Homo sapiens: one gene and its partners. The protein of the gene in region 4 interacts with the protein of the main gene of each other region in a pairwise test. Each region holds a gene or a part of one and is shown on either strand. Other genes may lie near its edges. The genes, in order: RBPMS2, FAM168A, C1orf94 and RBFOX1.

What was found.
Region 1: the proteins of RBFOX1 (region 4) and RBPMS2 interact in binary tests that used the Homo sapiens proteins (3 or more experiments, as listed by UniProt).
Region 2: the proteins of RBFOX1 (region 4) and FAM168A interact in binary tests that used the Homo sapiens proteins (3 or more experiments, as listed by UniProt).
Region 3: the proteins of RBFOX1 (region 4) and C1orf94 interact in binary tests that used the Homo sapiens proteins (3 or more experiments, as listed by UniProt).

Annotation. Positions count from the first base shown.
Region 1 is NC_000015.10:64,764,842-64,773,453, reverse strand, and holds part of RBPMS2 (RNA-binding protein with multiple splicing 2), read left to right. Parts: intron 1-8,612.
Region 2 is NC_000011.10:73,412,176-73,420,787, forward strand, and holds part of FAM168A (protein FAM168A), read right to left. Parts: intron 7,825-8,612; coding exon 7,699-7,824; intron 1-7,698.
Region 3 is NC_000001.11:34,214,353-34,220,689, forward strand, and holds the end of C1orf94 (uncharacterized protein C1orf94), read left to right. Parts: intron 1-4,333; coding exon 4,334-4,409; 3' UTR 4,410-4,779; downstream 4,780-6,337.
Region 4 is NC_000016.10:6,020,927-6,029,538, reverse strand, and holds part of RBFOX1 (RNA binding protein fox-1 homolog 1), read right to left. Parts: intron 1-8,612. UniProt on the Homo sapiens protein: RNA-binding protein that regulates alternative splicing events by binding to 5'-UGCAUGU-3' elements. Regulates alternative splicing of tissue-specific exons and of differentially spliced exons during erythropoiesis.

The DNA of each region.
Region 1 (8,612 bases), on a different chromosome or scaffold from region 4:
GTGGTTCCAAATCCGCGCACTTGGAAAAGGGCATGGTGGGCTCGCGTTTAGCAGAGGTCCAGAACAAAGGGTTCTGAGGGTCTCCTGGAGCCCAGTGTCTGTCTGGTCTGGTAAGGGAAAGGGTTATTCCCCAAGCCCTGGCCTAGTCTTCTGAATAGTGGGCCATGAGCCCCTGTGCTGGTGGCTCCATCTTGGATTGGTGGTGTAGGCTGGAACTGGAATCCTCCCTGTAGTTTAGATGCTCCCTAAGCAGTCAGTTCTGCAGCCCCTAAGAGCAACCATCTGGAGAATCAGCGTTAGCAGTGGTTTACTCCCATGGCTGACACAGGTGGCTTCTTCCCAGTCAACTCTTGGAGACTAGCGAGAGCAAGCCCAGGAAACCAAGGAATGCTGCTGCACGCCGTAAGACCTCAATTCCTAAAGGCGCTGGGTCACTGGCGAAGGGAGTGTATTTTTCATGGTTCTGGGAGTTATCAGTGAGGTTGCTTGTCCTGAACTGCTTTGGATAGCCTTGACTCTGCCTGCTTGACTACCTTACCTATAGGCTTTATCCATGTCATACGCATTAAGTTTTCTTTCTGGACCCAGGGGTTAAGGATACAAGTGAAAATTCTCAGCCTAGGAGGTCGGAAGGACTTGCCAGGAAGTGGTGGTAGGTGAAATGCAATGATAGATAAAATAAAGGCATATGAGCACATGGTACCATGGTGCTCCTGAGAGATTAGAGGTCAGCCTTCCCTGAGATGTGGGTGAGTAGGAGGAGCAAGGTTAGACCTGTGGGGGTGGAAAAGGCATTCCAAGAGGAGGGAGTCGCATGTATAAGTGAGGAGGTAGGTTTGTGTAACCACATGGCTTGTTTGGGTAACTACCTGGAGTTTGCTATATTGCAGCAATATCAGGCAGTGCAGCCATAATGAGAGTTTGGAATTAGGGCAGTAATGACTGTGGTATTACGGGAAAATTGGCATTTTTCTGCCACTTGGGAAGATGTGTTCGAAGCTTTGATACCCTTTGAAAGCTAAGGAGGGCAGTAAGGAATTAAGGGGAGGAGCTGAATGTCCCTCCCAATCTAGAGGTTGTGCTGTCCTGCAGGTAAGTCTTGACTGGAGCTGGGGACGACATGAGGTAATACAGTACATGAACCTGTCCGGGGCAGGCTGTATCAGTGCTGCCAAACTTCAGACCTAAATGTCCTGTCTTAGTGATTCTCAAGGGATAACTGGGTAATTACCATGTCTCTGAAGAGGGGTAAATGTGATTTCTATTTTGAAAGTGGAGACCTTGCTTTCATAATACAGTTGCTGTTGGCCTTCCATTTCTATGGGTTCCCTATCCATGAATCCAGTTGTAGATAAAAAATACAATAATAAAAAATAATACAAATAAATATAACAACTATTTACATAGCATTCACATTGTATTAGGTATTGTGAATAATCTAGAGATGAGTTAAAGTATCCAGAAAATGTGCATAGGTTATTTTTTTATTTGTTTGAAGGGGAGTTTCACTCTTGTCACCCAGGCTGGAGTGCAGTGGCACAATCTCAGCTCACTGCAACCTCTGCCTCCCAGGTTCAAGCAATTCTCCTGCCTCAGCCTCCTGAGTAGCTGGGATTACAGGTGCCCGCCACCATACCTGGCTAATTTTTGTTTTTTAGTAGAGACAGGATTTCACCATGTTGGCCAGGCTGGTCTTGAACTCCTGTCCTCAGGTGACCTGCCCACCTCAGTCTCCCAAAGTGCTGGGATTACAGGCCTGAGCCACGGCGCCCAGCCTTGTTTTGTTTTTGAGACAGTCTCTGTTGCCCAGATTGGGGTGCAGTGGCGCAATCTCGGCTCACTGCAACCTCCTCCCAGGTTCAAGTGATTCTCCTGCCTCAGCCTCCAGGATTGCAGGTGCACGCCACCATGCCTGGCTAATTTTTGTATTTTTAGTAGAGACGGGGTTTCACCATGTTGGCCAGGCTGGTCTTGAACTCCTGACCTCAAGTGGTCCATCCAGCTCGGCCTCCCAAAGTGCTGAGATTACAGACGTGAGCCACCGTGCCCGGCCTGTGCATAGGTTATATACAAATTTTATATAAGAGACTTGAACATCTGGAGATGTTGATATCCAAGGGGGAACCCTGGAACCAATCCGCCTCAGATATCGAGGGACAACTAAACGGTACGAGGTGATACTAAGTTATAGTAATTTTTAAAAACCACTTTTTTGAGGTATGATTGGCATATATAAAGGTGTATATTTAGTGTATACAACTTGAAGAGTTTGGAGATTGTTAAAGTAATTTTTAACTGGGGGGCACCCCTGGAAGGGGGAGAGTGGTATTTATACTATTGGGTTGAGGGAGGATATAAGTTTCTTAAGAGTTAAAAAAGTTTTTGCCAGCTTAATGGTAAGCTATAGAAAGGCAGGGGTTAATGGCAGCTAAGGGGGCTACAGTTTGACCTGAGGGGCTTTGCCCTTCCCTGCCCTTCCACCTCATCCCAGTGTGGCTGGGACAGGGCTGCTGCTTGCAGGCCTGGTATCCTAGAGCCCATCATGTGTCCTCAGAGGGGTGTCAGGAAGCAGCCAGAGCCCTGGGACCACTGGGTGGCTTGAGGTCAGCCCTCCCTGAGATGTGGGTGAACAGGTGCTTAGACTTGTGTGGATGGAACGGGGAGGGGGGTGTGGGAGGTGGGGGATAAGGCACTCTAGATGAGTGCGAGGTAATTCCTGGATCCAGTGTGCTATTTGGGCACCTCCCTTTTCTTTAACATCAATAGCATTTGAAAGCATCTGGGACATCTTGGTCTGCAGGCTTTTTTTGAATATGAGGGAATGGAGGCTTCTCTGTTTCTGGGCACTCACCTAGAAGCCCTGCCAGGCATATAGCAGTAGGAGGTCAGGTTCCCCTCCTCACTGGGAGTTATTGTGGATGTGTCCCCTCTGCCTAAGTAATCTAAGGGAGAGGCTGTACTAATAATAATGAACCTGTATGTTGTATTTATGCCAGGCATTGTTATATGTTCTGCACCATTTTAACTCTTAATCTTTGTAAGAGCATTATGAAGTACTTACATTATTATCACCATTTCATAAATGAGGAAAGTGAGGCACAGAGAGGTTAAATAACTTTCATGTAGCTATTAAGTGGGGAGGTTGGGATTTGAACCCAGAGTTTGCTCTTAACCACACAGTATACTGCTATTGTGTTTTATATTAGGGTTTTTGGTGAGACTGGAAGGCAGGGGGAGAAAGGTATCTGCAATTTTCTTTTTTTTTTCTTTTTTTTGAGACGGAGTCTCGCCATGTCACCCAGGCTGGAATGCAGTGGTATGATCTTGGCTCACTGCAACCTCTGCCTCCCAGGTTCAAGCGATTATCCTGCCTCAGCCTCCCAAGTAGCTGGGATTACAGGCGCGCACCACTACGGCCAGCTAATTTTTATATTTTTAGCAGAGACGGGGTTTCACTGTGTTGGTCAGGCTGGTCTCGAACTCTTGACCTCCTGATCCTCCTGCCTCGGCCTCCCAAAGTGCTGGGATTACAGGCGTGAGCCACCGCGCCCAGCCGGGTATCTGCAATTAAAGTTTCTAATGGCTGAGTTTTGGGTGATGCCAACCAGAAGCCCAGAGGCTGACTCCGGACTAGTTTCCTTTGGGCTGGTGGCATCCCAAGATGGGTGATGGGAGCTGTCAGCCCCTGCCAGGAGGGGCCTTTTATCACAGATATGATTTAGAGTTGCCATTGCACGAAGATAATAAACAAACCAAGCCAGTTTTATTTTATTTTTATTTATTTATTTATTTTTGAGATGGAGTCTCGCTCTGTCGCCCAGGCTGAAGTGCAGTGGCGCGATCTCAGCTCACTGCAAGCTCTGCCTCCTGGGTTCACGCCATTCTCCTGCCTCAGCCTCCAGAGTAGCTGGGACTACAGGCGCCCGCTGCTACGCCCGGCTAATTTTTTGTATTTTTTAGTAGAGATGGGGTTTCACCGTGTTAGCCAGGATGGATTTTATTTTTTAAATTCTTTTTTTTTTTTTTTTTGAGACGGAGTTTCGCTCTTGTTGCCCAGGCTGGAGTGCAATGGCGCGATCTCGGCTCACCGCAACCTCCACCTCCTGGGTTCAAGCAATTCTTCTGCCTCAGCCTCCCAAGTAGGGGGATTATAGGCATGTGCTACCACGCCCAGCTAATTCTGTATTTTTAGTAGAGATGGGGTTTCTCCATGTTGGGAGGCCTCGGCCTCCCAAAGTGCTGGGATTGCAGATGTGAGCCACTGCACCTGACCTAAATTCTTTTTTAAAAAATCTATATCCTTACACATCTTGCATATTTTTAAAATTCTTTTTTTTTTTTTTTTTTTTTTTTGAGACGAAGTCTTGCTCTGTCGCCCAGGCTGGAGTGCAGTGGCACGATCTCTGCTCACTGCAAGCTCCGCCTCCCGGGTTGACGCCATTCTCCTGCCTCAGCCTCCCAAGTAGCTGGGACTACAGGTGCCCGCCACCATGCCCGGCTAATTTTTTTGTATTTTTAGTAGAGACGGGGTTTCATCGTGTTAGCCAGGATGTTCTCAATCTCCTGACCTGGTGATCCACCCACCTTGGCCTCCCAAAGTGCTGGGATTACAGACATGAGCCACGGCGCCCGGCCTTAAATTCCTTTTTTTTTTTTTATAGACGGGGTCTCTGTTGTTGCCCAGGCTGGAGTGCAGTGGCATGATCATAGCTCACAGCAGCCTCGATCTCCTGGGCTCAAATGATCTTCCCACCTCAGCCTCCCTAGTAGGTAGGACTACCAGCACCATGCCCAGCTAATTTTTTTTTTTTTCCTCGAGACAGAGTCTTGCTTTGTTGCCCAGGCTAGAGTGCAGTGGCGCAATCTCGGCTCACTGCAATCTCTGCCTCTTGGGTTCAAGTGATTCTTCAGCCTCATCCTCCCGAGTAGCTGGGGTTACAGGCACCCGCTACCACACCTGGCTAAGTTTTGTATTTTTAGTAGAGATGAGGTTTCACCATGTTGGCAGGCTGGTCTCGAACTCCTGACCTTAGGTGATCCGTCTGTCTTGGCCTCCTAAAGTGCTGGGTTATAGGTTTGAGTCACTGCACCTGGCCTCGGCTAATTTTTTGTAGAGACAGTGTCTGCTTTGCTGCCCAGGCTGCTCTCGAACTTGTGGCCTCAAACGATTGTCCTGCCTTGCCTCCCAAACTGCTGGGGTTACAGATGTGAGTTGCCACGCCCAAGCAGTTTTATTTTAAATTCTCTACAAATGGCACACTTACTTATTTCCTGTACCTGGGCGTGACTACTTTCACACACTCCTCCACTACCCATTGCTTTGGGCATTTTAACTAAAGAAACGATTCTTGCTCTAAAGAGCCATTTGGCTGATATTCTGGGGGACATTCTTTTGTGTCTCGTTATCCCTTCCTTTTCCACATACGGGCAATCTGTTTAGTCTGCCCCAGAGAGAACCAGTTTCTAAATCCCACTCAAGGAGGCCAGCCAGGCATGTTGGCTCATGCCTGTAATCCCCTGCATTTTGGGAGGCCAAGGCAGGAGGATCACTTGAGCCTGGGAGTTCAAGACCAGCCTGGGCAACATGATTAAACCCCGTCCTTACAAAAACAAAAAAGTAGCTGGGTGTGATGGTGCATGCCTGTAGTCCCAGCTACTCAGGAGGCTGAGGTGGGAGAATGACTTAAACCTGGGAGGCAGGGGTTGCAGTGAGATCGTGCCACACTGCACTCCAGCCTGGGTGACAGAGCGAGACCTTGTCTCAAAAGAAAAAAAAATCCCACTCAAGGCTGGGACATGCTGGCTTCCTCCTCCCCATGTCCAGGGTGGGACTGGCAAGCGCCGTAAGTAGAGGAAGCCATGGCTGGTGGGTGCTGAGCCTTTGCTTGGCTCTCATGCTCTGAACCCTTTTATCCTTCGGGGCCTCAGGACAATCCTGCGAGCTGGAGGCAGGGTGAGTCCTGCCTGCCCTGAGTACTGAGCTCCTGGTCCAAGATTACCCAGAACTGAACTACAGTGCTGGGTTCTGGATCTGCTCTGGCATTGGTTATGGGCAGCAGCGACATCTGGTGTCACGTCACTTCCTCTGTCTTCCGCCCATGGCTGCCACAGAAGGATCCACACGCCTCTGGCAAACCATGAGGCAGTGGGGCAGAACCTGTCCCCTACACTTCAGAAATGATGCTGCCTAGCTGGGCATGTTGGCACACGCCTGTAGTCTCAGCCTGTCAGGAGGCTGAGGTAGGAGGATCGCTTGAGCCCGGGAAGTCGAGGCTGCAGTGAGCCAGTATCCCACCACTGCACTTGAGCCTGGGTGATAGAGTGAGAGCCCCTGTCTCAAAAAAAAAGAGAGAAAAAAAAAGTAAAAAACCGAAAAACTCGGTGGCTTATGCCTGTAATTCCAGCACTTTAGGAGACTGAAGTGGGTGGATCACTTGAGCCCAGGAGTTCAAGACCACCCTGGGCAATGTGGTGAAACCCCATCTCTACTAAAAATACAAAAATTAGCTGGGTGTGGCCGTGAGCACCTGTAATCCCAGCTACTCAGGAGGCCGAGGCAGGAGAATTGCTTAAACTTGGGAGGCGGAGGCCACTTAATGAGACTTGGTCTCAAAAAACAAAAACAGGCCAGGCACAGTGGCTCAGGCCTGTAATCCCAGCACTTTGGGAGGCTGAGGCAGGTGGATCACGAGGTTAGGAGATCGAGACCATCCTGGCTAACACGGTGAAACCCAGTCTCTACTAAAAATACAAAAAAAAAATTAGCCGGGTGTGGTGGCAGGCGCCTGTAGTCCCAGCTACTAGGGAGGTTGAGGCAGAAGAATGGCGTGAACCCGGGAGGCAGAGCTTGCAGTGAGCTGAGATTGCGTCATGCAGTCCAGCCTGGGATACAGAGCGAGACTCCATCTTAAAAAAAAAAAAAAGCCACCATTAAGTCAGAACTGTGGGCAGCCTATGAGGCTTCATATGCCAGAACCCGTCCACTGCCTGTCCAGGCACTGGCATAGCCTCCTTGTATTCTGCTTCTTCCCATATTCCACCCTTTGATGGAGAGAGTACGGTTACTTCTGATACGTGCCAACACTAGACAGGTGACAGGATTGTTGGGCCCTCCCTTCCTGAAGAGTGCACTGGTGGCTGTATCAGCGTTGGAGGCCTCTGGAGTGCAGCAGGGCCTGGGTGTGGTGGGAGCGTTTGCCTAGGCGCATCTGCCTTGGCTGTCAGTCAACTCACGGCCAACTGAGCAGAGGCTCTTGACTGTCACAAGCTATCAAGGCCACCTCCAACCTCCAAGGAGGACGGACAGAGCCTGACTTGGACCAGGCCATGGCAGAAGTCTGGAGTACTTCGCCCTTCTTTGTGGTTAACCAACCTCCCCCTCCTCAACTATCTTTTAGTGCAGGTAGGGGCAGGGAGTTAGGAGAGGATACTGGCATAGGAGCTGAGACCATTTTTTTTTTTTTTGAGACAGTCTCGCTCTGTTGCCAGGCTGGAGTGCAGTGGCTCAGTCTTAGCTCACTGCAACCTCCGCCTCCCAGGTTCAAGCAATTCTCCTGCCTCAGCCTCCTGAGTAGCTGGGATTACAGGTGCCTTCCACCATGCCCAGCTAATTTTTTACACTTGATCTTAGCCAAAAGGCAGAGAAGCGATCTGGCTAATTTTTTGTATTTTTAGTAGAGATAGGGTTTCGCCATGTTGGCCAGGGTGGTCTCGAACTCCTGACCTCGTAATCCGCCCACCTCGGCCTCCCAGAGCGCTGGGATTACAGGTGTGAGCCACCGTGCCTGGCCCATTTTTGAAGAACTATTGATGAAAAGGCTCTGCACCTTCCAGTTTTTGCCCAGACTGGTCCCCCCCCGCCCTTTTTTTTATTCTGACACAGGATCTCGTTTTGTTGCCCAGGCTGGAGTGTAGTGGCATGATTACGGCTCACTGTAGCTTCGAGCTCCTGGGCTCAAGCAATCCCCCAGCTTCAGCCTCCTGAGTAGCTGAGACCACTGGTGCATGCCACCATGCCTGGCTAATTTTTTTTTTTTTTTTGAGACGGAGTCTTGCTCTGTCGCCAGGCTGGAGTGCAGTGGCGTGATCTCATCTTACTACAGCCTCCACCTCCTGGGTTCAAGGGATTCTCCTGCCTCAGCCTCCCGAGTAGCTGGGACTACAGGTGCACACCAACACGCCGGGCTAATTTTTGTTTTTTGCTTTTTTTTTTTTTTTTTTTTTTTTTGAGACAGAGTCTCGCTCTGTCGCCTAGGCTGGAGTGCAGTGGCGCAATCTCGGCTCACTGCAACTTCCGCCTCATGGGTTCATGTCATTCTTCTGCCTCAGCCTCCTGAGTAGCTGGGATTACAGGCGCACGCCACCATGCCCAGCTAATTTTTTTGTATTTTTAGTAGAGACGGGGTTTCACCATGTTGGCCAGGCTGGTCCCGAACTCCTGACCTCGTGATCCGCCCGCCTCTGCCTCCCAAAGTGCTGGGATTACAGGCGTGAGCCACCGTGCCTGGCCAGTTCTTCTTTTTTTTTTTTTTTTGAGACGGAGTCTCACTCTGTTGTCACCCAGGCTAGAGTGCAGTGGCGTGGTCTCAGCTCATTGCCAGCTCCACCTCCCG
Region 2 (8,612 bases), on a different chromosome or scaffold from region 4:
GATGCTGACCATACAAAACACCATTCAGAGATCGTCATCTTCTAGGATGCTGAAAAACTTTGCTCTGCAGAGTTGGCTCCTCCTTCTCTCCTGGGCTCTAGGGGAAGGCCACCTCTGCCTGAAAATACCTGAAGTCAGGGATCACAAAGATTCACATCAACCTGGAACCTGGGCCATGTCTGTCCCTCAGCAGGATGGACAAAAGCTGGAGCTAAGAATGGGGCTGAGAAGTCAGGCCCCAAGAAGCTCACAATTGCCCATGTAAATAAACTGTGCTGCCTTTTAATCCTCCGGAAAAGAGTGACAGATCCTTTGTTCACAGAAAAAAACTTGAAACATGAGTCATTCAGGAACAACACTGTCTCCTTTTAGAATCACAAAATGGAATCGTTCTACGGAACCCAAGTGATCATCAAGGGACTCCAATCCTTGGACTTTACACAAGGGGATCCTGGGCTCAGAAAAGGCAAGTCTTTTTAATAACTTCTCCTAAAGACTCTAAACTCTTCTAAGTTGAAGGGACAGTGCCTGAGGACCTAGGCTTTGAAGCCCTGCTGGGGAGGTGCTGAGGTGGCTTCTTTCCTGTGGTTCCATCTTGGGTAAGTCTAGCAGACCTCACTGAACCTCTCTGGGCTTCAGCTCTTTCACCTATAAGATGCTCACCAAGGACCCTTTCAGCTCCGAGGTGCTGTTTCTATCATATAATAAGGGACTAGGGGCAGAGTGGAGGGAGTGCTTTATTGGAAGAGAAGACATCTAGTCTTCAGTCCTGGCTTTCCCCCTAATTTTTCATGACAATTGTCAAGTCTTTGGGCCTTAGTTTCTTATTTTGTAAAATCAGGTGGCTAAGAATGAAGATCTCTTCCTAAACAAAAATTCCATGGTTCTAAAGATCCTGGGTCTCTTCTACCTTAACCCCAAGTAAAAGCAAACTACCACATGGTCACAAATCTTTCTCAGTCCACATCACACCTCTTTGGCTTAGCACCCCCCTGCCCCTGATGACTCAGGAGGATAGGAGAGCTGCTGCACAGCTGCCACAAAAGTCAGCCTGTTCCTGGATTCACGTCATTTATTTTTTCACCTGCAGATCCATAGTTTTTTCCATAGTTTTGTGATCAAATATGCTTGGGAAATAAGTAACAATGAGGATAGAATGGAAAGTACATATGAAAGAGAGGGAAGCATGTTAAAGAGAAGTAGAAACTAACTGGAAGTGCAACTATGAGCTGAGTGAGAAGTCTAGAGCAGATTTCTCAAAGTTTCTAGATTATGGAGCTAATGATGAAATGTGGTCATAGGAGGAGAAGCAGATACTGTGGGGGAAGACAGGGAGACTAGCTTTGCAGATGTCTAGAAGGAACCATCTGATGTGTACGGAGACACAATTTACTTATCTATAAAATAAAGGGGTTTTATAGATAAACCAGAGATAGACATTTCCCAAATGTGGACAACGTACTATAGATCCCAAGGGATCTTAATAGTTGTTTTTGCCAAAGAAAAGGAAACAAAAGAGTTCTATAGTCCCATATGTAAAATAGAGATAAACAGTTAAGATTTTGTTTTTATTCCATGACCCTGAGAAGTTTTTAAAACAATAGGATGGGCTGGATGTGATGGCTCTCACCTATAATCCCAGCACTTTGGGAGGCCAAGGCAGGAGAAGCACTTGAGACCAGGAGTTTAACACCAGCCTGGGTAACACAGACAGACTACATCTCTAAAAAAAGAAAAAAACTTAGCCAGGCATGGTGGCTGGTGTAGTCCCCAGCTACTTGGGAGGCTGAGGCATGAGGATGGCTTGAGCCCAGGAGTCTAAGGCTGTTGTGAGCCATGATCACAACACTGTACTTCAGCCTGGGTGACAGAGCAGGACCCTGTCTCTTAAAGAAGGTGGGGAGGTGAACTGTGAATCTCTAAGATGGGAGTATGTACAAGACTGTATTTTCCAAATTAATTTTACCACAGAATCTTTTATTCATACTATAAACATTTAAAACAATTAAATTTCAGCCATGTTTTTTGTAATTGAAGCTAGTTTTGGTAAACAAAGTTATATTGTAACACATCCACATCCATTCATTTACATATTGACTAAGGCTACTTTCCTGCTACAATGGTAGTCACTGACAGAGAGCATATGGCCTTTTTAAAAGCCTAAATATTTGGCCCTTTACAGGAATGTTTGCTGACCCCTAATTTAAAGGAATATATCAAGGTGTAGAGAAACCTAGCAGAGCTGAAAGCATCCCTTTTCTATGCAGGAGAGTAGGACACCCCTGAATCAGAAGGTGCCTGTTTCTGAAAGCTCTGTAGCACAGAGCCATGGTTATGAGCAGTCTGGAGACAGACTGACTGCCTGGGTCCAAACCCCCAGCTCTGAGACTTAATAGCTATAGGATACATCAGTCTCGCGTGTGATATGGGAACAGTAATGGTACCTACTTCATTGTGATAAATACATTAACTGTTAAGTAAAAAGCACTTAGAACAGTACCTGACATATTAGAAGCACTTTATAAAGATCAGCTATTATTATTTTCTCTCTCACTTTATAGGGACAGTAAGCTTCTGTCCTAAGGGTATGCAGGCAGAGCCTGGTCTGAGAGACTAAAGCTAATCTATGACTACTATGGTCTGTCCCAGCTTGGAACACAGACTCCAGGATTCTAAGATTCTAAAATGTTATGGCTTAAAATGCCATGATTTTATGATTCTTTAAAGTTAACAGGCCAAAGATGCTGATGACTTTCCTTTATGCTCCTGGAGAATGTGCTCTGGAATTTTTCTCTTCCCTGGGGAAGCTGGATTACCCACTGTATGCCACAAGGACAGCCATATTACAAAGTGGTGAGACTATCCCTCTGAGGAAAATCAAAAAGCTCCAAGAGACTGCAGTAGAATTTGGTTCCCACATCTAAGAATAACCTTGTCTGAGAATGTTTCCCTTTCTTCATGTTATGAAATGAGACACACACATACTCAGAATACAAATCAGTAGCCAAAACACCCTTGGCAGCCAAAGAGATGATGCTGCAGAAGAAGGCCTTGCTTGTTTGTCCAGACAGTCTGAGATAGAAGCAGAACTGCAGAGCTAGAAGACTCAGAGATCATTAAGACCAACGTAAACATTTCACAGATGAGATAATGAGTAGTTGCTGAAAGAGAGAGCTGTTTGTGGGGATCTAAGACTCAGTGCTACTTCCTCTAACCACAGTGGTTCTCAAGGTTACCATTTGTCAGGAGGATCTTCATGAGGCTGGAGAAACTGCCTGGGGGCCCTCATCCTAGGTTCTGTCAGTAAGTCAGGTCAATTCCTCTCAGGGAATATCCTCATTTGGACTAGACAGTATCAGAGAACTTCTCTAGTGCTGACATTCTAGGTCTCTGAGTATTTCAGAAGACTTTCATGAGGAAATCATTTCAGAGGACTTTCCATAATTTACTAGTGGTCCTGTCAATACTCTTGAGGAACACTGAAAATTCCCCTGGAGCTATAGCCTGAGCTTGGGTGACACAAAAATCAGGGTTTATTACTTTATGCATCTAAGTAAAAGAAGCTGTTGGGCTTGTTGCAAAAAAGTCTCACAGATTTTGCCCAAATGAACTTAGACTCAGTTCACTCACTGGAGGCCTGGCTATCCTGAAAGGAATTCTAAGTCTGAAGGTCACAGAATTAAGACTTTGGAATGTTGTGCCTGAAGGACATTAGAGGTTTATATTCAACCTCCTCCTTTTCCGAGAAAGAACCTGGAGCCCAGAAGGACAGATTTTCCCCAAATTGTACAGCACATCAGTACACAGCTAGGCCCAAAGTTCAGGGCTCACCCTGCCCTAGGCAGAGCTCTTGCTGAGTTAAAGTCTCTGTAGTCCAATCTTGGGCATTTAATATACTGGCCTTTGTTGTCCCCATTTCACTAAAGGCAATATCATGAAAGAAAAAATGAATTAGATCACTCGAAGTCCCAGCTCTGCCTTATAAAAGAGGCTTTGTTTATGATGTCCTATTCTTTCTCTTAGGTTCCTAACCATAATTTTAGAATCAAATGGGATAATAAAAAGAGTATGTACATTAACAAGATAAAACCTTTTCAGCGCTTTCTGCAATCCTTTTTCACTGTCATAAATCTTTTTCAGTTGTAGAAGCCCTACCACCTTCAAAGGCTTGATCCTTGCATCACGGATGCCTTTTAGACTAATTGGTTTATTGATCATCAGATTTATATGTCTGGACAAAATAAAGCTCTATGTCTGAATCTTGCTTTGACCCCTAAGACTCCTTGTTGGTAGCCAAGTGAGACAGTGATGAATCAGCAGGAGACCTAATTACAAACAGGCTTAGCAAGTATCAGTGAAATTGAACTGAATTTGTCAAAGTGCCCTGAATTTTCTGTGGTACTAGAAGCCACAAAATCTGAATGCTGGGAGGAATCTTTTTGAGTATGGGAGGGCCAGTCAACCCCAACTGCATTAAAAAATGGCACAGGTTTATACATTACTTGCTTGAAACAGAGGTAGGCCAGGCATGGTAGCTGGTGGGCAGACAGCTTGAGCCCAGGAGTTCGAGACCAGCCTAGGCAATGTGGGAAAACCCCATCTCTACAAAAAATTAAAAAAATTAGCTGGGCATGGTTTTGCATGCCTGTGGTCCCAGCTACATGGGAGGCTGCGGAGGGAGGATTGCTTGAGCCTAGGAGCTTGAGACTGCAGTGTGACGTGATTGTGCCACTGGACTCCAGCCTGAGTGACAGAGCAAGACCTTGTCTCAAAAAAAAGGTGGGGGTGGGTACATTTTGGTCTTTTTCAGGGACTGTGATAGCCTGTCTGGGAGGGAACAGTGGGATGTGGCTGCTGGACACTTAATGGGATTTCAGGAAGATTTCAACATAGTAGAAGGCAAGGCCTTCTGTTACTCAGACTTCCTGTGGAAAGGGTTGCCTCTGAAGGGAATGAGTACTCCATTTTTGGAGATGGTTTGTTGGCCAGCTAAGGGCAGCTAGAGAGGTGGTCCCTGTTGGGGTGGAAGACGCTGAGTACACATCATCTTGCTGAGAGATAAGGAGTCTAATTGCAAGAAAGAACCTTGGAGATGATTTAGTTCAGTTCCCTCATTTTGCAGTTTGAAAAATCAAGGTCCAATGCATGGACATCAATTATCCAAGGTTACACAGAACCCAGTCTAGAATTCAATGCAGCTTCCACTCCAGGCTGCTTTCTGCTACACTACAGTAGGTGTGCCTATATGCGTCTATATCCAGATGTTTAGATGTAAGAGAGAACATGTATATCCCTATTTTTATATATATATAATCTTACGTATGTTCATTCATTCTACCTGAGGTATCTGGAGAAACTCCTTATGGCTGACATACCTCTCTCTCTTTTTTTTTTTTTTTTTTGAGACGGAGTCTCACTCTGTTGCCCAGGCTGTAGTGCAATGGCGCAATCTCGGCTCACTGCCAGCTCCGTCTTCTGGGTTCACACCATTCTCCTGCCTCAGCCTCCCGAGTAGCTGGGACTACAGGCACCCGCCACCATGCCTGGCTAATTTTTTGTATTTTTAGTAGAGATGGGGTTTCACCATGTTGGCCAGGATGGTCTCGATCTTCTGACCTTGTGATCCGCCCACCTCGGCCTCCCAAAGTGCTGGGATTACAGGTGTGAGCCACCGCGCCTGGCCTGACATACCTCTCTTAAAGAGTAAAATCAATCTCATGAGAAAAGTCAGTAACTGAATCTTAACCTGGGTGATACCTTTTTCCGGCTGTGCTGCTTACTAGCTGGGTGGCGTTGGACCTATTACCTTTCTAGGCCTCATCGTTCAAACTGGGATGAAAATCCACCTAAATAACTTAGTAGACTGAGTGTAATGTAGATTAAATGAAAGGGTGATTATGAGACTATATTTTACAAAAGGTGAGTTACGTTGTATAAACATAAACTGATGTTGACATCTAGGGGCAATGAAAACTTGAGAAAATGACATTGGATGTTGATATGGTTTAGATGTTTGTTTCCTCCAAATGTCATGCTGAAATGTAACCTCCAGTGTTGGAAATGGGGCCTGCTGGGAGGTACTGGATCACAGAGGTAGATCCCTCATGATGGCTTAGCACCATCCCCTTGCTGATGAGTGAGCTCTGATTATTTAGAGTGTGGCACCTTCCCAGCCCCTTGCTCCCTCTCTCACCATGTGATATGCTGGCTTCCTCTTTTGCCTTCCGCCATGACTGTAAGCTTCCTGAGGCCCTCACCAGAAGCTAAGCAGGGGTTGGTACCATGCTTGTGCAGCCTGCAGAACCGTAAGCCAATTAAACCTCTTTTCTTTATGAATTACCCAGCCTCAGGTATTTCTTTATAACAACACAAGAACAGACTAACACAGATGTTTTAAAGAAAAGAAAAAAATACAATGAATTCTTCTAGTCTACTTACTTAGTAGATTAATAATTTGTGGAACCACACACTATCAGGCCTTGCCTGGAATATCCCTTTGAGGGCTTATCCAGCCCTCACAACTTAAGAGAGAAGTTCTCACCACATCCAAAGTCAGTCATTCCTCTATTGAACAGCTCCAACAAGACACAAAGTTCTTCCTTATATGGAGTCAAAATGCCACTCAGTAATTTCATTTTTTTTTTTTTTTTTGAGACGGAGTCTTGTTCTGTCGCCCAGGCTGGAGTGCAGTGGCGTGATCTTGGCTCACTGCAAGCTCCGCCTCCCGGGTTCATGCCATTCTCCTGCCTCAGCCTCCTGAGTAGCTGGGACTACAGGCGCCCACCACCATGCCCGGCTAATTTTTTTTGTATTTTTAGTGGAGACAGGGTTTCACCGTGTTAGCCAGGATGGTCTCAATCTCCTGACCTCGTGATCCGCCCACCTTGGCCTCCCAAAGTGCTGGGATTACAGGCATGAGCCACCGCGCCCGGCTGCCACTCAGTAATTTCTAAACATTGGTCCTCATTTCCCCAGTGGAACCACTTTGTGTTAAAAATTAGATGTGACGGTGACAACATCAGTTACCCTACTGAGCCTCAGGATGAATATGACCAGTCTGACTGGCTAGCTGGTTTCTGGCCTCCCTGAAGACTCCTCATACACACCTTGGTCCCACAGTGCAGCTTGCACTAGGGCAGTGTTTCTCATACAGAGGGCAATTTTGCCCCATAAGGGACACTTAGCAATGTTTAGAAACATTTTTGGTTGTCACAATGAGGCTTTCCTACTGGCATGTAGGGTAGAGGCCAGGGATGCTGTTAAACATCCTATAATGCACAGGACAGCGCCCCCACAACAAAGAATTATTTGGCCTAGATGTCAATAGTGCTGAGATTAAGAAGCCCTGTGCTAGAGGGGGGAGCCCTCTCTGTCCAAAGACCCACAGACCTTCAAAATGTGCCCTCTGTCCTTTCCCCCTAAAATGCAGTAACAGTCCTTCCCCAATCAACTTGTTGGCCAGGTGAGTATTTCCTTCTCCTTCCCTCAGTGCTTTGTGTTTCCCCAAAGCTGAGTGCATGATCAAAGAGAATGACCTTTCCTGAATAAGGAGGGGTAATTTTTTGCCTGGGTAAAAGAACCTCTTAAAACATTATTTATCTCATAAATGTCATTTTAAAAAGCTCCCTTTCCTTTCTTCCTAAGAAACAAATCAGTCCCAACCAAGGGGAACAAGGAAATGAGACAGGCTGTATTTACTGAAAGCCGCAGAGGATGCTTGGTAAGTTCGGTTCTCGGTCCCGGTGTCCACTGGGAGGTGGAAGGTGCCTTCAGTGCCACAGGAAGACGAGTTCTGTGGCCAGGCCTGTTTCATCAGCAGAGTTGCTTAAGGGAAGACACAAGAATGGCATTAGACAGAAATAAGAAGTGGCCACCACCAATCACAGACACAAAGCAAGGGTCTTGTGCTGGACAGAAACATACAACCCAAGGGGCCTGTTCAGACACATGGGATGGTCAGCCTTTCTGAGATGGTTGAGTGGGTTAGGAGGAGTGCTGAAGTATGTTTCCAAATGATTTGAAATCAAGGAAATCTGAACTTACACTAAAAGAGTCAGGACTTTCTACCTACTACTAAAACCACAAAGATGCCCATGAATAACCATCTCCTACTACCTGACACTGTGGCCTAGGGCTCTGGTATATTCCTCAGCCACTTTCTCATTAATGTGTAACAACTTGGGAGCCTTTGTGTGTCACCAGATCAACTGAGCACTCTTTGTTGTCTGAAATATCATCTGGAGGTATATTTATAAGCTGCTTTCAAAGACAGGCCCACAAATAATGACCACATTACATGAACCTTGCTGGACTACCATCTCTTCTGAAGGGACTGAGCTGTGGCCATGGTAGCTTAAAAGGCACTGGGCACTGTGCCACACCGAACCTAGTTAGCCAGTGGGGCACTCCTTGCTAATAACTCCTTCTCCTGTACACCCAGCTGAGGCCAGACAGACATACTTCTTGCATACCCCTGAATATCTCCTACTGAGGTGTTACTGGGTGCCCCACCTGGGATATTTCCTCATGAATTAGAGGTGGTCCTTTGGGCCATTAAGAAAGCACATATGAAATTTGGGGTAGGTAGGAAATATAGATGAGGCCCAGTTTAA
Region 3 (6,337 bases), on a different chromosome or scaffold from region 4:
AAAGGCTTTGGACTGCTAGGCCTGGGGATCCAGGGAAGATTTATGCACATCAGAGTGAATTGATGGGCTGGAAGTAAGAGAAAGAGGAAGCAGGATAGGGTGGGGTCTAGAGGTGGCTCTAGGGGCCTATGGGACAGATTATCATCCCCTGGAGGTGAGAATAGAGACCCAGACAAGCCCCCTGCAGGTTGGCCAACTTCCCACATTCTGTGCTGTGACTCTGGGCTCTGGGAAGATAGACTTGCTGTAGGAGATAGCCCTGGCTGTGTCTGGGAGGGAGGGTGGTCTCAATGTCTCCTCAGTCAGCTTTCGGGAACCACCGACTGGGAGCTGTGAGACCAGAAGGTTGAGACTTGGTCTCCACATGTCTGCAGAGGTCGGAGGAGTGGGTAGGCAGCCCGAGGAAGGAGCAGCCTGAGAAGTGAGAGACAGCCTGGGGAAAGCCAGAGACAGTGGAGGCAAAGAGGAGGGTGAGGAGAAGGAGCAGGGTGGATTGGCGTTCTGAGAGGCTGGGGAGACCAGGACCATGAGGTCGGAAAAATAATGTAAGGGATGCAAGCCTGAGTACCCAGAGGGGATGATCTGTTCATTCAAAAAATATTGATCCAGCACCTTGTATGTGCCTGGCACTGTTGTAGACACCAGGGATAATGAAGTGAACGAAAAAAAGGTTTTCCTTCTCCTAAGGAGCTTTCATTCTAGAAGGAGAAATGGACAATAAGGAGATAAACAGGCAAGCATGCAAGGCCAGGTCCTCAGGATATGGGTTGGGGTGGGGAGAAGAATCAAGGGCAGCCTCTTGAGCCAAGATCTAAATGAGATGAGAGAATGAACCACACATACATTTCGGGGATGAGCCTCTGGGCAGAAATAATAGAAAGTGCAAGGGCTCTGAGGTGGGAACCTGTGGCTGCAGCACAAACAGTGAGGGAGGGAGTGCATGGAATTAAAATAAGAGGTAGCCAGGGCCAGACTAGACAGGGCCTGGTAGGCATGGCTAGAAGTCTTGTTTCAGGAGCAGTGGAAAACCATGTAGGCTTTTAAATTGATGAGGACATGTTCTAATCTTCTATATAAAACAGATCACATTGGTCAATGTCTGAAGAATGGACTATGAGGGTAAGAGCTGAGGCAGGGGAGTAGGCTAGAGCTTTATAGTTGAGCAAGAGGCATTGGTGGGATGGATAAAGGCAGTGACCCTGGGAAAGGGGGCAGGTGAAAAGATCTGTGATGTGTTATTTTCTTGGTAGAATTGGTGGGACGTGATGATGGTTGAATGTGTGATGAGGGAAAGGGAAAAGTCAAACAAATTCCTTGGTTTTTGACTTGTGCAACTGGAGCAGCAGCAATGCCAAAACACTAAGGTCATTGGGCCAGGCACAGTGGCTCACGCCTGTAATCCCAGCACTTTCGGAGACCGAGGTGGGTGGATCACTTGAGGTCAGGAGTTCGAGACCAGCCTGGCCAAGATGGTAAAACCCCATCTCTACTAAAAATACACAAATTAGCTGGGCATAATCGTGGGTGCCTATAATCCCAGCTACTCGGGAGGCTGAGGCAGGAGAATTGCTTGAACCAGGGAGGCGGAGGTTGCAGTGAGCCGAGATCATGCCATTGTATTCCAGCCTGGGTGACAGAGCACAACTCCATCTCAAAAACAAAACAAAATAAAACAAACAAACAAACAAAAAACAAAAAATGACCAAGGTCATGATGACCACAGCAAGGATCTGTTTACCAAGAGTCAGTCTTAGACATGTGAAAATTGAGAAAGTCATTAGACAGATGGGTGGAGCTATGGATAGGTAGGTGCATATAGGAGTCTGGAACTCAGGGGAGAGGTTGGGGCTGGTAATACGTTTGGGAGCCATTCTCATATACATGATATTTCAAGGCAAGGGATGGGATGGGATGAGATGGCCCAAAATACACAAGTATAGAGAAGAGAAGAGATCCAAGGGCTGAGCCTTGAGACTTCCAGCATGTAGAGGCTGCGGAGATGTGGAGGAACCAGCAAAGATTCTGTGAATAAGTAGGACTATCTAGTGAGGTGGGGAAAAAAATGGGAAAGTGGAGTGCAGGAAGCCAAGTGAAGAAAGTGTTTCCTGAACAAAGTGCTGGTGTTGGGGTGGTGACGCGAGGTGCTGATGGAACAAGATCAAGGTGAGGCTGCACCTGGCTGGGGAGTATGCATGGGCCTAAGCAGAGAGTTCAGCATGGAAGACAAGGAAGGTCAGCAGAAAAGGTGGAATCAAGAGACAAAACTGTGTGAAGGGGAGAGGAAGGAGTGAGAGGCTTCCATGTCCTCAGGGAAGGAGAAGTAGAGCCCTCCCCTCTGCCAAGTCAATTTGCACACATTCATCATGGTGGAATAACCATACAATTTATCTTCCAAGCAATAATAAATTTGAGAGTTAAAAGGAGTACAGATAATAATTATATCAGGCCAGACACGGTGGCTCACAACTGTATTCCCAGCACTTTGGGAGGCCAAGGCAGGTGGATCACCTGAGGTCAGGAGTTTGAGACCAGCCTGGCCAACACAGTGAAACCCCATCTCTACCAAAAATACAAAAAATTAGCCAGGTGTGATGGTGCACACATGTAGTCCCAACTACTGGGGAGAATGAGGCACAGGAATCGCTTGGACCTGGGAAGCAGAGATTGCGGTGAGTCAAGATCATGCCACTGCACTCCAGCCTGGGTGACAGAGTAAGACTCTGTTTCAAATAAATGAAACTATAAAATAATTATACCAGAAATACCAACATAGAGGCCGGCCCAGGCAAACCAGGACATATGTTCGTCCTACTCAACAGGCAACTCAAGCTCCTCCTCCTCCAGGAAGCATTACTTGTTAACTCTCGTCCACACAGATTGCTCCTCTTCCTGGCCCTCTAGCGTACATACTGTCTAGATCATGCCGGTGGCCGTTGATCTGATCAGAAGTTCTCAACCTGGAGGACCTAGCTGCATGTGTGCCAATCAGATATGAGCTGTGTCATGATCATTGTTGATTACTGATAATTGTTAAATACTGAAGTATGGGTTACAGCCTTTATTTTGTAAGTCAGAGTGGAAGGCAGGGTATCCCTATAATAACATCATTATGATTTCTGAATGATCCCAATATGATTTCTGAAAGAGAGAAACAGAGGTGGGGTTACCGCTGGCATGGATTGCTTATGAGGGACCCACATTGTGTCAGGCCCTGGGCACATGATATGAAATAGGTAAAGTCTCTGCTCTCTTGGCACTTATTTTAGTGAGAAGCTAGTGAGACAACCCAGCCCAACTTGCCCATGGAGACTCAGTGAGCAAGAGACAGAGTTAGCTGCTGAGGCACTACAAATGAATGCCGTGGTCTATTTCCATTGCTTCTTCCCTCCTCTGCTCCCGCTTTTTGTTTCATCAATTCATAGAAGGGTACCATGAATGTGAATCTCTTCTATAATATGCATCTGCCCAGCTGAAAAGTGATTGAGAATCCCAGGATTAGATTAAATCTAGCCATTTGCTCTATTGTAATTTGTATTGAGTTCTGTTCCCATTCATTCAAAGTATCTGAGCAGATGGGTGAAGAAATTACAGTAGGATTCCAGCAGTGTGAGTAAATGATTCCATCTGGAGAGGTCAGGGAAGTCTTCACAGAGGAGATGGCTTTTGAACTCTATTTTGAAGTATGGATAGGAGTGTGCCAGGGAGAAAAGGAGAGGCGTGTGCATTTCTGCTCTTAGACGGTGAGGCTCACGTCTTAACCCTTCCTTCCCTGAGGGTCTAGCAAAGCCCTAGGCACTCAGTGATGTCTCAATGCTTATTTCTGAGTCAGGGATGGAGTGAAGGGCCTGATTTAGCTTAGTGCTGGAAGGGGAGGAGGGACTCTGGGATTGTCCAGCCCCAAAGACCTTATGCTGGACTTGCCTCTAAGTTCTCTGATGTTGTAGATTTTCCTGAGGGACATGTCTGGTCCTCTAAGGCAGGTAGAGTGGTCACAGGAATACAGGTAAGATGCTTAGGTCCAGAGAGGGTCCCTGTTCTATGGGTCTTGGGCAGGGAGAGAGTGTAGGCTCCATTGAAACAATCTTTACAGGCTCCCAGGGACTTCCTGATCCAAGTAAGCATAAGGAGAAGCGCTTGATTGTCCTCTAATTGTATTATTTTAATATTTTACTTTCCCAGGGCCAAAGCCTTTCTTATGCCAAAGCCTTTACCCTCCAAGCCTGTCATGGTCTTCACTGTTTCTGACAACCATAAAATTAATATATATATTTTTCTAATTCTCTCCGATAACATTAGGAATCTCATCATGGCATCCACCCTCCCTCTCTTCCAGGTTCGGCTCGACATCCGGAGGGCCCTTGATGCACAGCCCCTATTTTTCTTCCAGTGGGAATGGCATAAACTTTTAGATCTCCTCTTCTCCCTTCTCCTCCCTTAGCCCTTGGATCAGGACTAGGGGCTCTGATTTTTGGATTCTGCAAAAGCTTGGTATGAAGTTTGGAAAAGCAAGGTTCTGACCAGGTCACAGACAAAACAGCAAGACCAGATTCATCTATTGGCCAACACTGACACAAAAATAGCCCTCCTCACACATGGCACAAGCTACACACACACACACACACATGACCCTCATATTCATACTTGCTTGCTCAACCACTTATGCATCTATATTTAGCTAACATGAGTGATTTTTGTTTTTGTTTTTGTTGGTAAAATAGAAGTAAGACACTTAATTTTAGAAAGTTTGTATTTTATGATAAAAGTATGAGCTACTTGAAATGGAGTGTGCCTGTTTATTTTTGTGGTGTTCTGTGTAATCTTTACCTCTCATTTTCCCCACGAGACTCAGCGTTTACTCAGGGCATGAAAGGAGACCACAGGCTGGAGTCCTCAGAGTGCTGCTATCTAAATATTGGACCTCAGGGATCATAAGTGAGAGGGCTTATCTCTTTTCCCCTGTGATCCACTCACCTCTCAACATCCCAGTGTATGCATCTCAGGAAGGGACATCATAAACGGAATGCACTCTGTCCTATCCCGAGTGGAAGTTTTCCATAAAAAGTCTCTTTTGGACAAACGATTGGGAAATGTAGCCTGGAAAACAATTTCAAAATTGATGCTAAATGTGGCAGACTATATCCAATGATTGTACATCAGTACCAAGATAGAGGTCAATGTCAAAACTGCACCTAATGGTGGCATCCTTAGACCTGTCTTGTTCAACTCTTACCAATGACTCGAATAAGGACATTGAGAGCAACTTGATCACATTGATGGAGGACATGAGTCTGGGAAGAGGAGACAGCCTGGATTTGTGACAGCACACATTCTTTAACTCTTCTGTTGCACCCCCTTGGCAGACATCGCTAATCAGCTCTGTCATTCTATCCCCATGAGTTTGGAGAAAGCCACAGAGTCATTCTTCCTGTGGTGCCCCAGGCAGCTGTCACTGATCAGAGTTGGTCTATGAAATGAAACCCATGTGGCATGCTCTCACAGTGTAACCCCATCGGCCTCACTGGTCTTTCTTTCTGGGTCCCTGGAAACCAATTTCTCTCCCAAGTTCCCTCAAGACTTATGCCTTCTTACATTCTTCATGGCCTAAGTCTAGGATTCCCTGGAAGTCCTTCAACTCCCTTCCCCAATGCTGGACCCTACTTTGGGCATTTCTTGTTTCTTCTTGATAGCCTTGGTTAACAGTCTGTCCCAAAGGTCTTTCTTATATTGTACTTCTAGGTATTGATCCAGGCTAGACTATAATTTGCCACCCTCCCTTGATCTCAGCATTTTGGGAAACAGGAGACAGTAAAAGAAAAATTATGGGTTTGCCTTTGGCCAGACTTGGCTTCTTAGCTGCTTTCCAACTATGACTTAGGGCACAGAACTTAACTTCTCTGAACCTCTTTTCCATGATTGGCCATATTAAGAGTTGTGAGGATTAAAAGATAATGCAGACTTAATATAAACTTTGAATTTTGAGGATTAAAAGATAATGTAGACTTAATATAAACTTTGTCTATTTAACATAGACTTGTGGCTTTAAGATGGTGGAGTAAAGATGTTTCTTTTCCTCTTCTCTTGAAACTTACCCCCAAATAACAAGGAGAACAAGTAAACCTGTATGAACTCTATCCTCAATAAAACTCGGAGAAGTTGGCAATCCCATCCCATATACAAAAGCAGAAATGGGATGGAGGAAAGGTAAATTCCTTAGCAGAACAGAGGAAGATCACATGGAAATGCCTGCCAAAGGAAATATCAACAAGAAGCTAGCCATTTCTCCTGCAGAGCCCTGATGGTCCTGGAATTGGAGGTGCCAGGTGCTAGACTCCATGGA
Region 4 (8,612 bases):
GCCTCCCAAAGTGCTGGGATTACAGGCGTGAGCCACCACGCCCGGCCATGTTTTTCTTTCAAATGCTAGATTCAACTGTAAAAATTCTCAAACTTTAAATAGTCTATCCTCTTTCAGTGTGCATATATAATGTCAAGTTTTTAAAATTTGTGGCTAATCGGCTTTCTTATACTATTTCTCATTATAAACTGACACCAGCGAAGCACAATTCAGTAGAAATAAGTTTATAGAATGGGGTGGATGGTTCCTTGTTCTTGTTATGAACTTTTGAAGATTATTTTAGGTTTACACAGACAAAACCAATAAAGTTTCCTGAGCAAAATGAATGAAATTCACTAGGAAACAAAATATCTTTCCACAAATCACAGCACACTAACTAGGGAACCTTTTGTATCAAAGAGTCATGGGGTGAGAGGCTATTGTCTGAATACCACAAGGTAAAAAAAAATAAGAAGTGACTAGCTCGGAAGTCTGTGTGATTGCTGCTTGACTTAACTCACTCCCAGGTAGCCATCCTTGGAGACAGAATCATTTGCCTTTTAATAGACAAGTAAATGGAGGCTCAGAGAGGTGCAGTAACTGGCCCAAGCTCACACAGCCAGGAAGTGGCAGAATCTGGATCCACAAGTTAAGTGTACCTGGCTGCCATGACTTTGTCCTTTCGCACCTTGGCGCTCAGGGAATTCAGTCTTCTCAAAGCTTTTCTGACTCCAACATAGCCCCATTCAGTGCCTTATCACCTTGAAGGCAAGACACTTCTTTAACCAGCATCCTACCTGCTGTAATTCAGACTGAACAATCTCTCCAAATCAGAAATGAGAAATCTTTCTACAAAGAGCTTCATGTTCTTTTTTTTTACAGATAGGGTCTTGCTCTGTTGCCAAGGATGGAGTGCAGTGGCACAATTACAGCTCATAGCAGCCTTAAACTCCCAGAGCCAAGCAATCCTGTCCCAGCCTCCTGAGTAGCTAGGACTACAGGCATGAGCTACCACACCCAGCTAATTTTTTTTTTTTTTTTTTTTTTTTTAACAGAGACAGGGTCTCATTATGTTGCCTAGGCTGGTCTCCAACTCCTGGCTCAAGCAATCTTCCTGCCTCAGCCTCCCAAAGTGTTGGGATTGCAGGCAGGAGCCACCATGCCCGGTCATCATGTTCTTAAAGAGAGGTATCAACCATGCCCTTTATTCTCCCTCAAGGAAACTACTGCACTTTCTCTAACCTGTGAAAAGGACTATTTTCCCTCCACTGGGGAATTTCTGCATGCACACACTCCCTCCCTCCTCTTATCAGCCTTTGCAATCAACAGCAACCTGAACTGGACTCAGCTTTCTAAGGATACTGAAGAAATAGGTATGACATTTACAACGTGGTAAAAGTGAGCCATGCCATGGACATCTTCAGGAGACTCACTTGAGAACACAGGCAGTGACCCAGAATCAAGACAGGGGGCTGGTCCCAAGGGAAACAGACACCAAGCCAATACCCCTGGGATCTAGCCAGGGCTACTGTTGCTGAATCAGCCCTCTCAATCCCCTGCTCCGTCACTTTTCATAACGAGTCTAATAAATTAGTGTTTCTCTCTGCCAATCAATCAGAGCCCATGCATATGGCTGCTGTCAGCATCCTCTGCAGGCGGAACTCCACACAGGGCCTCAAGTCTGTCAACGATCTCAACCGTACATTTGCAGCTACGCTGGGTTCTTCCCCCTTCACTCTCAATTTGTCACCTCAGTTACAGTCAAGAGGAAAATATACGAAGCACATTCTGGGACCAATTTGCTGCCCAAAGGGATTGTGAAATTCTAGCAACAAAAACAAGGTTAATAATGATATCATTATTATCAATGGATAATAGTAATCGTCATGATTATCATAGTCAGCCCTATGACTCCTACTTGCACTAAACACACACTAGGTGCCAGGCACTTTGCTAAAATAATTTACCAGGCTGATTAATCCTCAGACGGACTGTACAATGTAGTGATAATCTCCATTTGTAGGGATGGACTGAGGTTCAGAGAAATTGAAGAAAGTGAAAGGTTATGGACTTAGAAAGTGATGGAGCTGGGATCTCAAGCCAGACACACTGATTCTGGAATCTCAGTGAAATACCTGCACTGCCTCCTTCCTAGTACCTTATCATGGTGCCTCTGCTATTCCCTGCATCCCAAGCATGCCCTCTCCACACACAGCAGGGGAAGAGAACTGCTTGAGTCTGCAATCTCGGTTTGCCATTTAGTCACTGGGCCTCAGTTCCTTCATCTGTCAAGTGGTATAATAAAGGGTTTGCCATGAAGAGTTAATGAAATGACACACAGGAAGCCCTAGCACAGAAGGAGCTTCCAGTGAGTGTCATAGCTATTAGGGTCCCAACCATGGTACAAAGAAGACAATTTTGAAAACCTCAAGTCCTCACCCTCATCTCTGACACTCTATATTCTAAAATTCACAGAAAAGAGACATCAACATCTTGGGGAAATGCAGAACTAGCAATGAACAAGGTGATTGCACAAGTTCATCCATTATGCTGGCAAAGATCTAATTTTGTTCTCAGAAGAAATGAAGAGGGAAGCTGATTCAGATGACGGTGATTAGATGGAGTGAGCAGTGGTTTGCACACCACATTTTGAGTGGCTATCAGAGCAGCTCCAGCTGTGACTGCATGATGCCCAAGGACTGCCTGTAACCAGGCAGGTGGTCCAACCGCTCCCTCAAAATCATACTCAGAGCGTGAGCCTAGATAAAGAGGCCAGAGATGCCCTGGGCAACCCAGGGCCTTGAGACTCCAAGGAGACAAACAACAAAACAAGAGCCAGATTGCACCAGTGCAGAAATCTAGCGAGGCTCTTACACAACGATAAAGTAATACTGCAATAAATAGAAACAAGTGCCTTGTTTTCCTTTTGTGGCTCTAATGGGCTCAGCATCACTTCTCAGAGCAACTCAAGCTATGCAGCAAGAGCTCCCTAACCACTGCACACATTGCCTCCCACCCTCCCTTGTATCTTGCAAAGGCAGCAAAAGAGGCCATGTGCACAGTGATGAGCATCAGGGGCTGTGGACTCAGACTGTCAGGTTCAAAATCTTGGAAGTGCCTCTTACCTGCTGTTGTGTCCTTGGACAAATTGCTTAACGCCTGCCTACACCCCACTCTCTATCTGCAAAATGGGGATCTGAAAAGCACTAACCTCAAAGTGTGTGAGAAGCATCAAATGGAATAATTCATTATTTCCATATGGGGCTTCTGCTGTGTGCCTTGCACCACGCTAGATGCTAAGGAGACAGTGATGTCCAAACAGGTGTATGCATGGTCCACCTGCAGTTGACCATGGAGTGGAGTAAGAGAAAAAGGATAAAACAGAGTCACTCAATAAAATATAAGATGCCCCTGGGATGGCTGTAAAAAACGAGAATCGACACAGGCAAACAGGGACAGTTTCTCTAAGCCTGGGGCTTTTGAGTTGTAACCTGAAGGATGAGCAGGAATCGAATAAGGTGAACTGCTGGGTGGGTGGGGGAGGCGATCACATGCCTGAAACACATAGCACAACACACAGCCATGAAGGTACAGTGCTTGGCTCAGCTTGTGCTACATAGGAAGAGTTCAATCCATGTACACTTATTCTGATGTTCATGTCACATATAATAGGCAATAATGCAGTTCCAGTATTGTGGATAAAGAGACAGTCAATGTGGGAGGAAAACTGAATTGTCCAGGTGTCCAAACCCTCCAACAAATTGCACCTCAACCTTCTAAGGGCAGGGTAGCCTCTGAAGATGGACAACGTCGGCTGCACTCAGAGCTCTCCATAAGCAACCCACTTTGCACTGTCAATATCTGTTATTACCCTGGCCCACACCTACCAATGGGAGAATCTGTGGCCATACTCTGAAAGGGAACCTACCCGGACAGACGATCAATAAAGGGCATCTGAGTGCAACTGTTCTCAGGGTACTCCCAGGAGACTTGTCAGTCAAGCCATCAAAAGGATGTGGTGGTGGGAGGGTGCGGCTGCTCATGCAGGCACACAAGAACACATGATGTTGCCTCTTTGAAGGGAGGCCCCAGAGAAAGAAAATCTAAGTAGGCTAATGTATACAGATGTATCCTCCCAGGGTCTTCCACCCTCACACAAAGAACATTACTGGAAAATGAGGTTCTTTTTCCCTATAAAGTAATCCCTCTTCTTGAATGAAAGATTTTAGTGTAAGCCCTACGAAGTAGGTGGTGGTGGGGAATCGAGTTTAATTTCTCAGACGTTGCAAGGCTTACCTTTTCAGATGTCACTACGTCCACAGACCAAATCTGGTCATAGAAATGAATTGAAACTTTGAAAAAATAGAGCCGGCCGGCCAGGAAGGCATGCTTGTTTATTCACTCATCTCAAAAACACCTAACAATTTTCCCATAATGTTTAAGACATAAATATATCCTGGTATCTCTCTGCATAAAATCCCCCAATGGTTTCCCATTAGAATAACAGCCAGGGTCCCTTCCCAGGCCACAAGGGCCTATAGGACCAACCTTCAACTGTATGATTTTGTCACTATTCCAGCCTCTGGATCGTTGTGCTTGTTGGTCCCCTTCTCTGAAACGCCCTCCATGCAGACAACTATCCTAGAACGGAAGTCTTTTAGGACAAGGTATCTGCATGTATTGATCACTCTGCACTTGAAGTGCTTTCAATAGTGCTTGGCACACAGTGGGTGCCTGATGAACACTCAGGAATTCATAGAAAGTAGGGGTGAATGAGGCTGGGCGTGGTGGCTCACGCCTGTAATCCTAGCACTTTGAGAGGCCGAGGAGGCGGGTGGATCACTTGAGGTCAGGCGTTTAAGACCAGTCATGGGGAAACTCCATCCCTACTAAAAATACAAACACTAGCCAGGCGTGGCAGAGCACACCTGTAATCCCAGCTACTCAGGAGGCTGAAGCATAATAATCACTTGTACCCAGGAGGTGGAGGTGGCAGTGAGATGAGATCACACCACTGTACTACAGCCTGGGATACAACGTGAGGCTCTGTTTCAAAAAAAAGAAAGCGGAGATGAGTAGAATACTCATTGGATAAATGTATGGATCCATACAGATCAGCTACTTCTTTTCATGTACTTCTCAGGTCAAATCTCTCCTCTCTGGAATGTCCCCCCAAGTCACTATCACACTATAATTTTTGGAACCCTTTTCATTATCCTTATGAAAATATATTTCAACGTCTTGCTTATGACGCGGCTTCCCCCACGACAATATAAGCTACAAGAAAGGAAAGTTCTCGTCTGCCTTATTCACCAAGCACAGGGTCTAACATGTGGTACATTCCAAATAAATATTTCTTGCATTAGCCACTCCTTCCCCTAAGACAACACACTCTTCTGTAGCAGCAGGCCACAGTCACCCATGTCTCTTTGACTAGCGAACAATGACAAACCAGTGGTAATGAGTGACAGTGCTCACAATGACTACAGATTCAAAAAATGAGGACAGTTGCCTGTGTATATAACTCCACGCGTCATTTTTCATAAAAACTCCTAGCCCTACGACCGAGTCTAACTGTGTTCACAGTTGACATCATCTGAAAGTGCTAGATCCCCTTGTTTTGAAGCTCCATCACTGATTGATTCTTTAATTAAAGTTTTAATATTTATACCTGTGCCTCGAGGCAGTATTTTAAATAATGGAGGTAGACATTGGGAAGAGCCTCGTGGCTTCTTTAAAAACGTCGCCTCGGTGTTTGAGGTCTCCGGCACGACACTGTGGGTAAATGTGAAAGCGACAGATTAAAGGATGATTTTAGGAAAGTCAGCCAGTATTAATTTGTGGATGATGCTTACTGTGTAACTCCCATGCTGGGTGGCAAAGGCAGGACGAGCTGCCCTCTGTCCTTCAGAGCAAACGTGCTAGGATTTCAATAGTCTCCTTACACGCCACTGGGAAATCGCTGCGTCTCCAAAGTATTTTCTGTGTCAAATACGATTTCCCTCTTGGAATGTGTTCATTACTCCACACATCAGCTTAAAGGATGCAAACGAAATGGTCTAATTTTTGGAAAGGTGAAATGTCAGATTCCTATACAGGGCAGACCCAATTTTCTGGATACAAAAAATATGTACTATCAGAAAGGACTTTGATAAAATATAATAGCTTGGGATGGTTCGAGCTAAAAGGACTAAGCTTAATTTTTTTCTAAAATCATCAGAGACATGAGGATGTCTAGAAGACCTGTGCTCAAACCTTACAGGAGCAGGTTCTATATATATATATATATATAGCTTCAATTATAATGAGAAGAAAAATAGGGCAGAGTGGGTCAATTCCAGGAGGAGAAACCCGCTCAGACCCATGTTTCAGCTTCATTTCTGAGTGGAAAACTCTGTAGCTTCAGGGTGATGTAAAAAACTGTACGTTCTACGGACAGCAAGATTTATTACAACATTACTGAAACTTTATACCTGTTGATTAGATCAGCAAATCCTCATTTCCCTGGCCCCTGAGACCCTGGCCACAACCTTCTACTCTCTGCTTCTATGAGTTTGACGATTTTAGATCCCCGAATCCCTCATGCAGTAAAGGTAAATAACTCCTTGACATCTCCTATACAATACTATCCTTAAAACAGTCATGTATGATATACTTAGAAATCTTTTCACAGGGTACAGCCCATGTTGTGTTCTTGCCACAACAAAACTAAAATTCTTTCTAAAAACTGGATCAAGGTATTTGTGCATTCAGTTCATTTATGGGCAAATGTGTGCCACAGATGTTTATATGTTTATACAATTAAATACTATCACAAATTGTTTAGATACTATCACAAATTGTTTTTTGTTTGTTTGTTTGTTTTGTTTTGTTTTTGAGGCAGGGTCTCATTCTGGTCACCCAGGCTGGAGTGCAGTGGCGTGATATCGGCTCACTGCAGCCTCAACCTTCTCAGGCTCAGGTGATTCTCCCACTTCAGCCTCCAGGGTAGCTGGGATTACATGTGTGCACCACCACACCCATCTAATTGTTTGTATTTTTAGTACAGACAGGGTTTTGCTAAGTTGTCCAGGCTGGTCTTGAACTCCTGGACTCAAGCAATACGCCCACCTCAGCCTCCCAGAGTGATGGGATTACAGGCATGAGCCACTGCACCTGGCCACAAAATTTTATATCTAAACATACTAATTGCAATGTGTGAATCCCAGGAGGAATGATAAAGCCACTTCTAATATTCTTCGATTCTTGTGTTTTCAAAATATTCTATGTATTAAATAAATGATGTTCTAATTAAAAAAAAAAAAACAGATTTGCTAAGGTAATACTTTCATCCCAGGGGGCCAAGGAGATCAAGTCCTTTCAGTGGGTCAGAAGAAATGTACAACTGCTGCAAAAACTTAATTTCAGGTGCTTGTCAAGACAGCAAGTCAAATGCCACCAACCTATATCTTGGCCAGTGGGTGGGCAGCTTGTCCGTGATCCTCCTTGGAACATGCAGAGAGCAGAATGGGAGAGCTTGAGGCTTCTGTTCCTTACTTAAAAGAAAACGTGTGTGTATAAGGCAAGCCACCTGCCTTTCCTGTACCACTCGGTGCTACAAGGCTCAAAAATTAGAGGAATCTACTTGAAAGAATAAAGAAACAAAACTCATAGAATTCAGGCACTTACCATGTGCCAAACTGTTCTAAATGTTTAGTGCTTTAAGTAATTTACCCCCAAACCCTCTGAGGACAGAACTACGACTGAAACTCTGATTTTACAGGTGACAACCCGAAGCTCAGAGAGGTAAAGCAACTTGCCCAAGGTCACACAGCTGGCAGATAACGGATCCAGAAGCCCTGTGCTCTTCTGAGCCATAAAGCTCCACTCTCTGGACCCCTAAGGTGTCACTTCCACTACCGCGAGGAATGATGACTTTTCTTCCTAACCCGAGGCAACCATAAGCTAACTTAAGGAAAGCCCAGGGGATTCTTCCAAACGGAGGGCCTCCCTGACGAGCTCAAAGAGGACACAGGTTTTGAGTCAGCCCCACTTTTTACCAGCACAGCCACTGCCAGCACCACCTTTACCCTTCACAGGCCCCAGGTCCTTTGCTTCTGAACATAAAAGATCTTAGCTAAAAATAAATCTGCCAGTAGCTCCAGCCGGGGCCTCTGTGGTCACTTAAAAATTGAAAGAATCCAGGCCCTCTCATCTTTTTTTTCTCTCTTTTGTAACAAAGATAAAATGATAAATGGAGGGGAGATGAACTAGGACAGGGGGCAGGGAAGGGATGGCAGGCTGGGGCATGTCCTAAACTTGGGCTGTCAAGGCCAGGCCTCTCTGCACAACGGAGTTTAAAAATAAAAATAAACAATCATTATTCTAATAAAGGAAAACCCAAGTTAGGAGACATGATGTTTCAACTCAACAAAGCTATTTCACCACACTCCCCCACTTCTTTTCAAGTTCAACTGAAAAGATCCGCCTTTGGGGTGCCAATTGCCCGGACTGCCTGACCAGGATTTCCAAGCTCTTCAGTAGCCGCACCCCAGATGTTCCAGTGCCAGCAGGTGCACCCCAGCTCTGGCCCACACAGGAGCGATGAGCTCTCCCAGCCCCCTGACCATTCCCTGGCAGCAAGGAATGGAGCT